Linked DNA regions of Homo sapiens: region 2 is linked to region 1. Evidence: fine-mapped expression QTL. Tissue or cell type: adrenal gland. Region 1 holds a variant in brackets; the other region holds the start of a gene. All regions are shown on one strand. Distances are between the middles of the regions.

Region 1 (5,000 bases):
TTCTTTTTATCTTCTATTTCTTATATGATACTTTTTCTTTTTAAATATTTGTTGCAACATTTTTGTGACTGATAGCTTGAGCATTTTCATAATGGCAGCTTTTAAAGTCTTGTCAGATATTTCCAACATAAGTGTCATCTTGCCTTTTGTATCTGTTGATTATCTTCTCCCATACAAGATGAGATTTCTGTGGTTCTTAATATGTTAAATAACTTTGGTTTATGTCCTGGTTATTTTGGATATTAAGTTATGAGACTTTGGATCTTGTTTATATCCCCACTTCTGTGGTATTTTGAGTTTTGGGGCCCTTCTCCAATCTGCCTGTTATTTACATTCCAGAGTTCACAAATAGCTAGGCTTGGCATTCTTTCCAGAGTATATAGTTGAGTTCAGTGAGATATAGGGGCAGCATGTGTTGATTTCATCTTATGAAATATTTCTAAATAACACCTACATCAAAGTAAATCACAAGGGTAATAATATCACAAGGGAAATACTTTGAACTGAAGGATAGTAAATAAAAATTATGGATGTACCCAAAGCAGTGCTTAAAGGGACATTTATGGCTCTTTTGAAAAGACTGATATCATTAATAAACCCCCACCAAGACTGATCAAGGTAAAAACAGAGAACACAAAAATTACTAATGTAAGGAATGAAAAAAGAGAAATCACTTCGGATCCTACAAACTTTAAAAGAATAATAAGAAGATATTGTGAACAATGTAAACTAAAGTTCTAGGATAAATTCCTAGAAAAGCACAACTTGCCAAAACTAAAACGATACAGAAAATCAGAATAATCCTACATATTTTAAAGAAACTGAACCTATAATTTAAAACTTTACACAAAGAAAACTCCACACTGACATTGCTAATCTGTTACATTCTATCAAACATTTAAAGAAAAAACCCAAACTTACACAAACCATTTCAGAAAATCGAGATATGGGAACATTTTCTACTTTGTACTATGCAGCCAGCAAAACCATGATATCAAAATCTAGCAAAGGTGTTTAAAGAAAAGAAAATTATGGATCAATCTTATTTATGAAAAAGATATATAATTCCTAAAAAGATTAGCCTAGTGAATACACTAAAGAGATAATATACAGTGACTAAGGAATGCAAAGCTGGGTTAAGATTCAGAAATCAGTTCATGCGACTTACCACATTAAGGCAAATAATCATATGATTATCTTAATAAATGCAGAAGGAGCATTTGATAAAATTCAACATTCAATCATAAAAAAGAGGCTTAGAATACTAGAAATACAAGGGAACTTCCTTAATATGATAGAGGCTAACTACAGAAAAGCTAAATTAAACACCAGAGATAATTGGGAAATTTTAAAGCATTCTCTTTTACATTTTATTCATAAATTTTACTGGAAGACTGAGACAGTATAATAAGGCATGAAAGAGAAATAAAAAGGTGTAAAGATTGGAAAGGGTGAAATTAAATTGCCCTTGTTTATGGAAGACATGACTGTTTACATAGAAAATCCCAAGGAAATAAAATCTGCAGATAAATCATTAGGATTAATAAGTACATTTATATCCATAAGGCTGCTGGATATAAAGCCAATATACATATATCAATTTGCTATCTAAATAACCGGTACCAACTGGAAAATTATGAAAAGATACCAATTACAATAACATAAAACACCAAATTCCCAAGAATAATTTAAATGAAAGATGTGTGCAATCTTTTCAGATGTTTCACAGAAAAATACAAAAGATAGAGAAATTAAAATCTAAATAAATGGAGGGATACATCAAATTGATGAATGGATTCAATTCTATCCCAGTCAAATTTCAGCTGACATGTTTCAGCAAGTTTTCTTGTGGAAATCAACAAACCGATTTTAAAATTTATATGGGGCTACAAAGGGCGAAGAATAGCCAAGACAGTCTTGAAGAATAACAACAAAGGGGAGAACTAATGTTACC[G/A]CATATCATCAAGACTTATTATAAAGCTACAGCAACTAAGTGTGTTACTGACACAAGGATAGACACATAGACAAAACAGAATTCGCCTAGAGTCCAGAAACATAATCATATATATAGGGACGACTGATTTAAGGCAAAGTGGCAAGGCAGCAATAAATGGTGCCAGGTCAATTGGATACACACGTGGGAAAAAGGGAATGTCAACTCACATCCCACATCATATCCTAAAGTTAACACTAAGTAGATTGTAGATTTAAGCACGAATGGTGAAATAATAAAGCATCTCTTCCAGATAGGGAAAGATGTCTTAAATAGTGTAGGACACTAAAAAGCACTAGATCGAAAAGATAAAAAGATAATTTGGACTATTATATTAAATAAACAACTTAGGCTCATCAAATGATACCATTAAGATAGTGAAAACCAGGTCAGGGTGAGAGAGTAGATACTTGGAATAGGTATAGCTGACAGCTTGTATCCAGAACATACTGGAATTCTTTTGAAGTACTAAGAAAGTTAAAGAAAAATGAATATGACTTATACATGAGGGGATATCCAAAAAGCCTATAAACATTTGAAAAGGTGTTCAACCTAATTAGTCACTGGGGAAATCCAAATTAAAACCACAATAAGATACTACTGCACACTCACCAGAACTGCAAAAAATGAAAAAGTCAGAAAATACTAATTGTCAGTGAAGCTGTTAAGCTGTGAAAACCTTCATACACTGTTGGCAAGGATGTGAATTTGGAAACTATTCTACTAAAGTGATAACCCAGCAATTCCACTTCTGTGTACATACTGAAAAGATATGCATTCACATGGGCAAAAAGAGGCTTATGTAAGGATTATTTTCATAGCAGCTTTATTCATAAGAGCCCCAAATTGGAAACAACCCAAATGCCTAACAATAGAACATATAAGTAAATTGTGGTAATTTCCAACAATGAAATATTACACAGCAATAAAAAAGAACTACCATAACAGAGTGAAAGAAGCCATACACAAAGTTGTACTTACCGTATTTTCCCATTTATATAAAATTCAAAAACAGACAAAATTAATCTGTGTTGTTAGAGATTAGGATAATGGTTACCTTTGGGAAAAAAACAAGGGCATAACAATTGAGAGGAGTCACAAAGGAGGCTTCTGGAGGGCTGGTAAGGTTCTATTTCTTGATATGTAGTACAGTTTCACAGGCGTTCACCTTGTAAAAATTCATGGAGCTGATCTGGGTTGTGGTTGCATAGGTGTTTTCATTTTGTGAAAATTGATTGAGCTGGACACTTGTAATTTGTGTACTTTTCTGTATGTTACACTTCAATTGAAAAGCTAAGACCAACCAACCAAACTAAGTTTATGACAAAGAAGCTCTAGAGTATGCTAGAGCTCACAGGTCAGAATGTATGCATTAAAATAGTAGTTTTGAAATCTACAGCTGAAGGGACACTAAACAAATATTTACTGAACACCATGGGAACAGTAATAAAAAAGCATACCTTCTTTCAAGGATCTTACAATGTTAGTGGAAAAACAAAATATTAAAATATAATGTTATAAGTATTACAAAAAGGAAGTATATGATTTTATTAAGTTTCCAGGAGGAATGCTTAACTGGGATGGTATTGGGGGTTGAGAATTATCAGAGAAGGATTCCTAAATTTGATCTTCATCTTCAAAAATGACTAGACATTGGCCAGGTGGTATAAGGAAAAAGGAAACTGTAGGCAGAGTGAGCATATGACAGAGAGAGAACATGGCTGGAGAAATAAGCAAACCATGAAGGGCTGCAGGTTTGGGGCTTTATTCTGAGGGCATTAGGGAGCAGGATCATTTTAGAATAGCTACACCATGATACCAAATTGAAAGGAAGTAAAATGGGTGAGTGCTAAAATTAAAGAACTTTTAAAAAAAAAAATAAATAAAAATACTACTTAGCATCTATGGGATATATTTAAAGCAAAGATCAGTGGAAAATTCACAGCCTTAAGCATTTATATCAATAATAATGAAAGACAAAAAATATACTCATTAAATTCCAAACTCCAAATGCTAAGATAAGCACAACAAAATGACCAAAATGAAACATAAGGAAGGAAATAATAAACATAAAAGAAAAAGTAGTAAGGTTGGGAATAGAAAAAAAATAACTAAATAAAAATCAGTGTTTCAAGGAAAAATAACAAAATTGACACACCACTGGCTAACATAACCAAGGGAAAAAAGAAATAGCACAAATATACAAAATATGAAATGACAAGGGGGAGATAACTATTGAAATACAAGAGATTTAAAATATGACAGACTATCTGGCAGAGAGATCTCTGTGTAAATAAATTTGCAAACCATAAAAAATGAATAATTTCTTAGGAAACTGTACCAAAATTGACCCCATTACAGAAAGAAAGCATAAACAGATAAATTCCCAGAGGAGAAACACAAAAAGGCCTAGTTGATTTCATAGAGGAATTGTCAAAGAACTGATTGTCTCACTGCTACTTACATTTCTGTCACAGCCTAGACAGTGAAAGAAAACTCCAAACAATTCTTCTGAAGCAAGTGTAATATATATACCTAAACCTGATAAAGACAGTACAAAAAAAGAATATTTCTGATAGCACTTATGATTTTTCCTGAATACAGAATCTTTCTTAATGAAGAAATGCTACAGGAATTTCCATAAGGATCAGAAACAAAACAAGATCATCTACTATTTCCACTACTATTTAATGTTCTAAAGAAGATATTAGGCAATGCAGTTATATTTAAGGAATCAATTAGAGGTTTAGGAATTGGGAAATAAGTAAAAGTATTTGCAGATGGAGTGTGATACTTATCTGGAAAGCTCTAGAGAAATAAAGGTATAATTAACTCAAAGAACAAAAGAATTCAGGAAGATAAAAATTTACATACAGAAATAGTAGCCTTCAAATATACAAGCAAAAAACAGAGGATGTAATAGAAAAAAAACATTAACAAAGCAAAAAAGAAGTTAAATGCTTAAGAATAAATTTCAGTATGACATATACAAAACCTATATGAGAAA
Region 2 (5,136 bases), 500 kb before region 1:
CCTTTCAAGAACTCAAGGTTATGAATATGATTAGAGATCACTAAAGCTTCACTGAGAGGCTGATAAAACAAAGGTGTAGATGTTAGTCAAAGATGATGGCTCTCAGACATCATTTAATACAGTAGTCCATGCAAGAGATGGTGATAATTTGGCCTAGAGCAAGAGTCTAAAAATTATTGCCCACAGGGCAAATCCTGCCTCTTGCCTGTTTTTGTAAATAAACTTTTATTGGAACATACCTACACGCATTCATTTATGTATTGTCTGTGAATTCTTTCACTCTATGAAAGCAGAATTTAATACCTGGAGACAAAGACTGTATGTGACTCAAAAAGCCTAAAATATTTACCAGCTGACCCTTCACAGATAAAAAAAAAAAGCCAAACTCTGGTCCGGAATGTTAGCAGTACAGTGAGGGACAAATGCATGAGCAGATTATATTTTGGAAGCAGAACAAGAACAAGTTTGGTGTGTTCTAGGAACAGCTGGTGTGGCGGGAACATAAAAAGACCCAGATACTATTGTTTTTTTCTATTTTGTTTTCTAGCACATTTGTACCTATTGCTTTTATTCAGCTATTCATTCATTCCAAAAATATTAAGAAGTTCCACTCTGTGCCATACACCATGTGACCTGCTACACACACACACACAGAGAGAGGAAACAGTAAAATATCTGACTTTTATTTTATTACAAGTAAAATTTATATTTTATTAAAAGTAAAATATCCAGGCTCCCTAGAGTCTGGAGCCAAATTACCTAGGTTTGAATCTCAGCTCTGAAATTTATCTGCCATGTGATCCTGGTGAAAATTGCTTAACCTATCTGTGCCTCAGTTGCCTTATCCTTAAAGTAGAAATAATATCATCTACCTTAAGTGTTTGATATAAAACAAACACTTAGCCCAGTGTTTAGCATATAGTGCACATTTTATAAATGTTGGTTACTATTATTAAGGAAACTTGCTTCTTTTACTGACTCAAACAAACAGGTATTGTCTATCAACCTGTTGCCTTTTCTGAGTACTTTGTGTTGATTTCAGCTTAGCTTTAAGTGAGCTCATTCACTCTAATTGCTACAGTTATGATCTTCCTGTTACAGGACATTGGATCATGCTGTTCTTTCTGCCCAAAACTTTTTTTGTTTTCCCATTTGCCTGGCCAACTCCAATTTGTTCTTTAAACATAAGGGCATAAGGGCATGGACTATATCTGGGCTTTGTTTATCATTTTACACCCAGATCTTAGTACAGTGCCTGGCATACAGTAGGCACTCATTAATGTTTATTGCATGAATGAATACCAGCCAGACTAAATCTAGATTCTCATTGTACTTAGTTTTTCCTCTTTATGTTACATTCACACTCTGGATATGTCCTTTTGTTTACACACTGGTTCTAGAAATTTTTTAACAAATATTTATTAAATATATAGACATTTTAGACTCTGTGCTTGGAGAACAAATATGAAAAACACAAGTTTTCTGCTCTCAAGAAGCTACTTATTCATTAGAGGACAAAGACATGCAGAAAGAGAAATTATAATCTAGAGTAAGTGGTACTCTTGAGGCCTGTACGAGATCCATTGGGCATACTGGACCTAGGGAAAAAAAATATACAAACTTATCTGGGAAAGACAGGGAAGGCTTCACAGAGGAGGTGCTATCTAAATTGAGTCAAAAATAACGAGTAGCCGTTTTCCAAATAAACAAGTGCCGGGTAAGAGCATTCATGGCAGAAGGAATTCCAGGGCAAAGATGTGGAGGCTTTTTCTTCTTTTGTTGATCCTGACTTCTACAAACCAATTCCTTTATTGCTTTTTTGACATTAGATTAACACTTTTAATCTCGAATAAATATAATACTGCACAATTTCCCATTTTCAGTATATATGCATTTGATTTTTTTTGTTGTTCTTACTCTCATTTTTTAAATCTGCCTTGGATTTCCATTGCATATACTATTTCAGTATACTTTTTGGTCCTTCTTTGTAATATGTATCGTTCTTAAATTTTTACCTGCATAAGGTGTTCATTCCTAATGGGTATTCCCTTCTAGTGCTCACTGTATGTAGCACTGTATCTGGACCCTGGGTTCAAGATGCTCAGCTGAATCGATGGGAGTAATGAGCGGTATATGACTTCCATAAACTCAAGAAAATGGTGGAAAGGTAGTAGAATTTTACTTCTAGTAAACCTGGATAAACTACCATAAATAGAAGCGTAGTGGGAGGACTCGGGAGGAGCACTGAAATGGCAGGCAGGGGACCCAGGTTTTATAGCTTTATGGGCCTGTTTTTTCTCATCCCTGCACCTATAGCTTCAAGTATGTTCACTAAAGGCGATTGAATAGAGTGCCCCGGCCCAGTCCTTCCGAATGGGAGACTGACGCCCTAGCACCGGGCGAAGTCCCGGGCGCCAGAGGCACCCACCCTGCACGGCCGGAAGGAGTGGGGCGGGGCCTACAGGCTCTCCGCTGGGCCCGAGCGGGCTGGGGGAGGGGAGCGTGGGGCCGACAGTTTTGGGGGTGAAAAGGCAAAAGGCGGGTGAAAGGCTGCCTCCCGAGACTCTCCTTGCTTGGAATTCTGCCCACTCTGCGGAGTTAGCAGTCACGACCTCCAGCACAGGTGGGTTCCGTCCCGTGGGTCAGGGAAGGGGTGTCCCCATGGGTGCTACGGGTGGGTTTACCCAGGCGCTCGCTTTCAGGCCTGTCGCAGTGGGCGGCGGAGGCTCTCACCCGGGCTGCTGGGCCCAAGGGCGGTGGTACTCACCTTAACCCTGGCGGAGAGGAAGGCCACTCCTGCCTTGCCGCAGGGTTGTCGTCACGATCTGTGCCAGTTGCGCGACAGAGTCTGCCCGGAGATCAGCGTGAGGCCGGATGGGCCTAGCGCTCAGGAAGAGCTGGAAGAGCTGGAGCAAGCTCGCGTTGGGACTGACGCCCAGTGTACATTGTTTCAATCTCGGTCGGACTTTACAGCCCTGGATCTGTCACTGACTTGGTGTTTAGCTTTCAGCGAGTCCCTACCCTCTTCCTGCCTCACTTTGTTCGGCAGTAGAGTGGAAGGTGGAACTCAGCTGTCTGCAAGATCTTGCAGCACTTTCTTTCGTTCTCATATCCACTAATGTTCTCTGCCCAGATTTTACCCTTTGTCTGCCCCCTCTGGAGCAAGGCTCTGGGTAAGTAAGTTAGGCTAGGAAGTTTTCTTTCTCTTCCGAAAACAATGGAAAAGCCTTTAAATACTCCTGACTGCCCTGGAAACGACATTCAAACCATTAATTGAATGTCAACTCTGAAGAATGGGTTTGTGAATGCCATACTATTAAACGTTTTAACCAGATGATTGCCTAAAATGATGTGTGTTGAGTGGACATAGTACACTGCCTAGCAAAAGTCTCATGATAAATGAGTTGCGTGCTTTAACTCAGTCGCTGAAAGAAAAACTTGAGCTCTCATATTTAAGAAACACTTTCATAATCCACTCCCATACAGTAGTAGTCTTTTAGAGTTGCTTGTAGCTTGGTTTGCCCTTTCAGGACACACTGTAGTAAAAATTACATACAGTTTATTTTACATTAACTATAAAGACAAAGAAGGACTATAAACATTATGGATCAACATTTTGGTGTCAACTTCTGGTTTCTCCTCATTAAGGAACTGGTGGTAATGATAATGGTGAACATATATTTTGCAAAATACTATAATTTTCACAACAACCAGAAGACGTTAAGTAAGGTTATTTATAATAAGGCTTAAAAAACTTATACTTTATCTCATAACCAGTGTGATGAAGGGAATGTTTACTGGGGTGGTTGAGTCTGGGGGCTTGTTTAGTGTGCCCCACCTAGTTCTTTATTTCTTGGAAGCTTGGACTGGAACAGATCACTTCCTTGTTTTGGCCTCTGTTTCAGGAACCACCATTTGTTCTGTATTTCTGCTTGTCAACCCTGGGAACAACAGTAAAACCAGCCAAGTGGATCACTGGGTGTTTACAATGTTTCTGACAGCTGTATCTGATGCCTCCAGGGGCTGGGAGGGGGACCCCAGGATTAACAAACCTCTTTGGTGGGAAGAGTCTCTTCCTGCAAACTGAACACGGATCCATCAGTTGGGCACCACTGTGATCCCCTTTCTATAATACCAAGCATCCCCTGGGCTCATATGGGCTGTACATGCACCTGCCATTGCCCTGTGTAAAGATTTACAGGATAAGAGGCTCTTGAAAAAACCCAGCCTGCTCCATACCTGTAGGTTCTAGGGAAGGAGTGGCTGATATGTAGGTGAGTGTTCTTCTGGATGAGGAAAATACCTCATGATTTCCCAAATGGTTTGAAAGGTGAGAAAAAAATTATGCTGGATATCTGCTGAGCCAACCTGAAGGGTGAGTTTTGCATTGGCTATTTGGCAGGACCTGGTGTCTGCCTTGTTTAGCTATATTTTCACTCTATTCATCATACTCTGTTCATTCACTCCAAAGGCAATCAATGAATGTCAACTCTGTGCCAGGATGCTGATCCATTCACTGAGATTGGCAGCACAGGACAGCCAGTTCGGGAGGACAACAGGAATTCAACTTTAAGCATACTCAGTCTGAGGCCTCCTCACCTTTCCCCACTCCCTATATCTAACTGCTACAAAATCTTGTCACTTCTACATCCTGAATATTTTAAAAAATCCATCCACTTCTCTTTGTCCCATGACTACTCCAAATTTCAAGCCAGCAATATTCTTTTTTAATTGATTTAAAAATTTTTATTTTAAAAGACCAAATGGTTGCATGACCCTCGACTCTCATGGGAAAACCACAACCCACCACCACCACAGCAACAACAACAAACAGCCTAATGACCTCTGTATGATCCCTAATAAATTGTCAAAGTAAGGAGATGAAAGTTCTCTTTTTTTCTTGATGCTCACAGTGTTTAAATATTGTATTTAGGATAATTTACATGCCATAAAATTTGCATATTTAAAGTGATTTTATAAATTTATTGGGTGGTGCAACCATCACTACAATCTAATTTTAAAACATTTGCATCACGTCAGTGACATCTTCCTTGCCCATCTGCAGTCAGTCTTCATTACTACTCCCAGCATCAGACAACCACTAATCTACTTTCTGTGCCTATGGATTTGCCTATC

The links. PIP is the estimated chance that this variant, and not a neighbour inherited with it, causes the effect.
Region 2: it holds the start of TMLHE, and the variant in region 1 is fine-mapped to the expression of TMLHE in adrenal gland (GTEx, PIP 0.96).

The regions. Positions count from the first base shown.
Region 1 is chrX:155,106,193-155,111,192 of GRCh38, reverse strand. All of the region lies in intron 7 of BRCC3 (BRCA1/BRCA2-containing complex subunit 3), which reads right to left. Among named protein-coding and RNA genes, the nearest start is that of BRCC3, 37 kb to the right of the region's middle. The variant G/A (reference allele first, on the strand shown) is at 1,955.
Region 2 is chrX:155,610,279-155,615,414 of GRCh38, reverse strand. TMLHE (trimethyllysine hydroxylase, epsilon) reads left to right here and starts at 2,463. Exons shown (of 8, transcript NM_018196.4): 1 at 2,463-2,623. It overlaps SPRY3 (sprouty RTK signaling antagonist 3), which reads right to left and starts at 2,829. Exons shown (of 3, transcript NM_001304990.2): 1 at 2,768-2,829.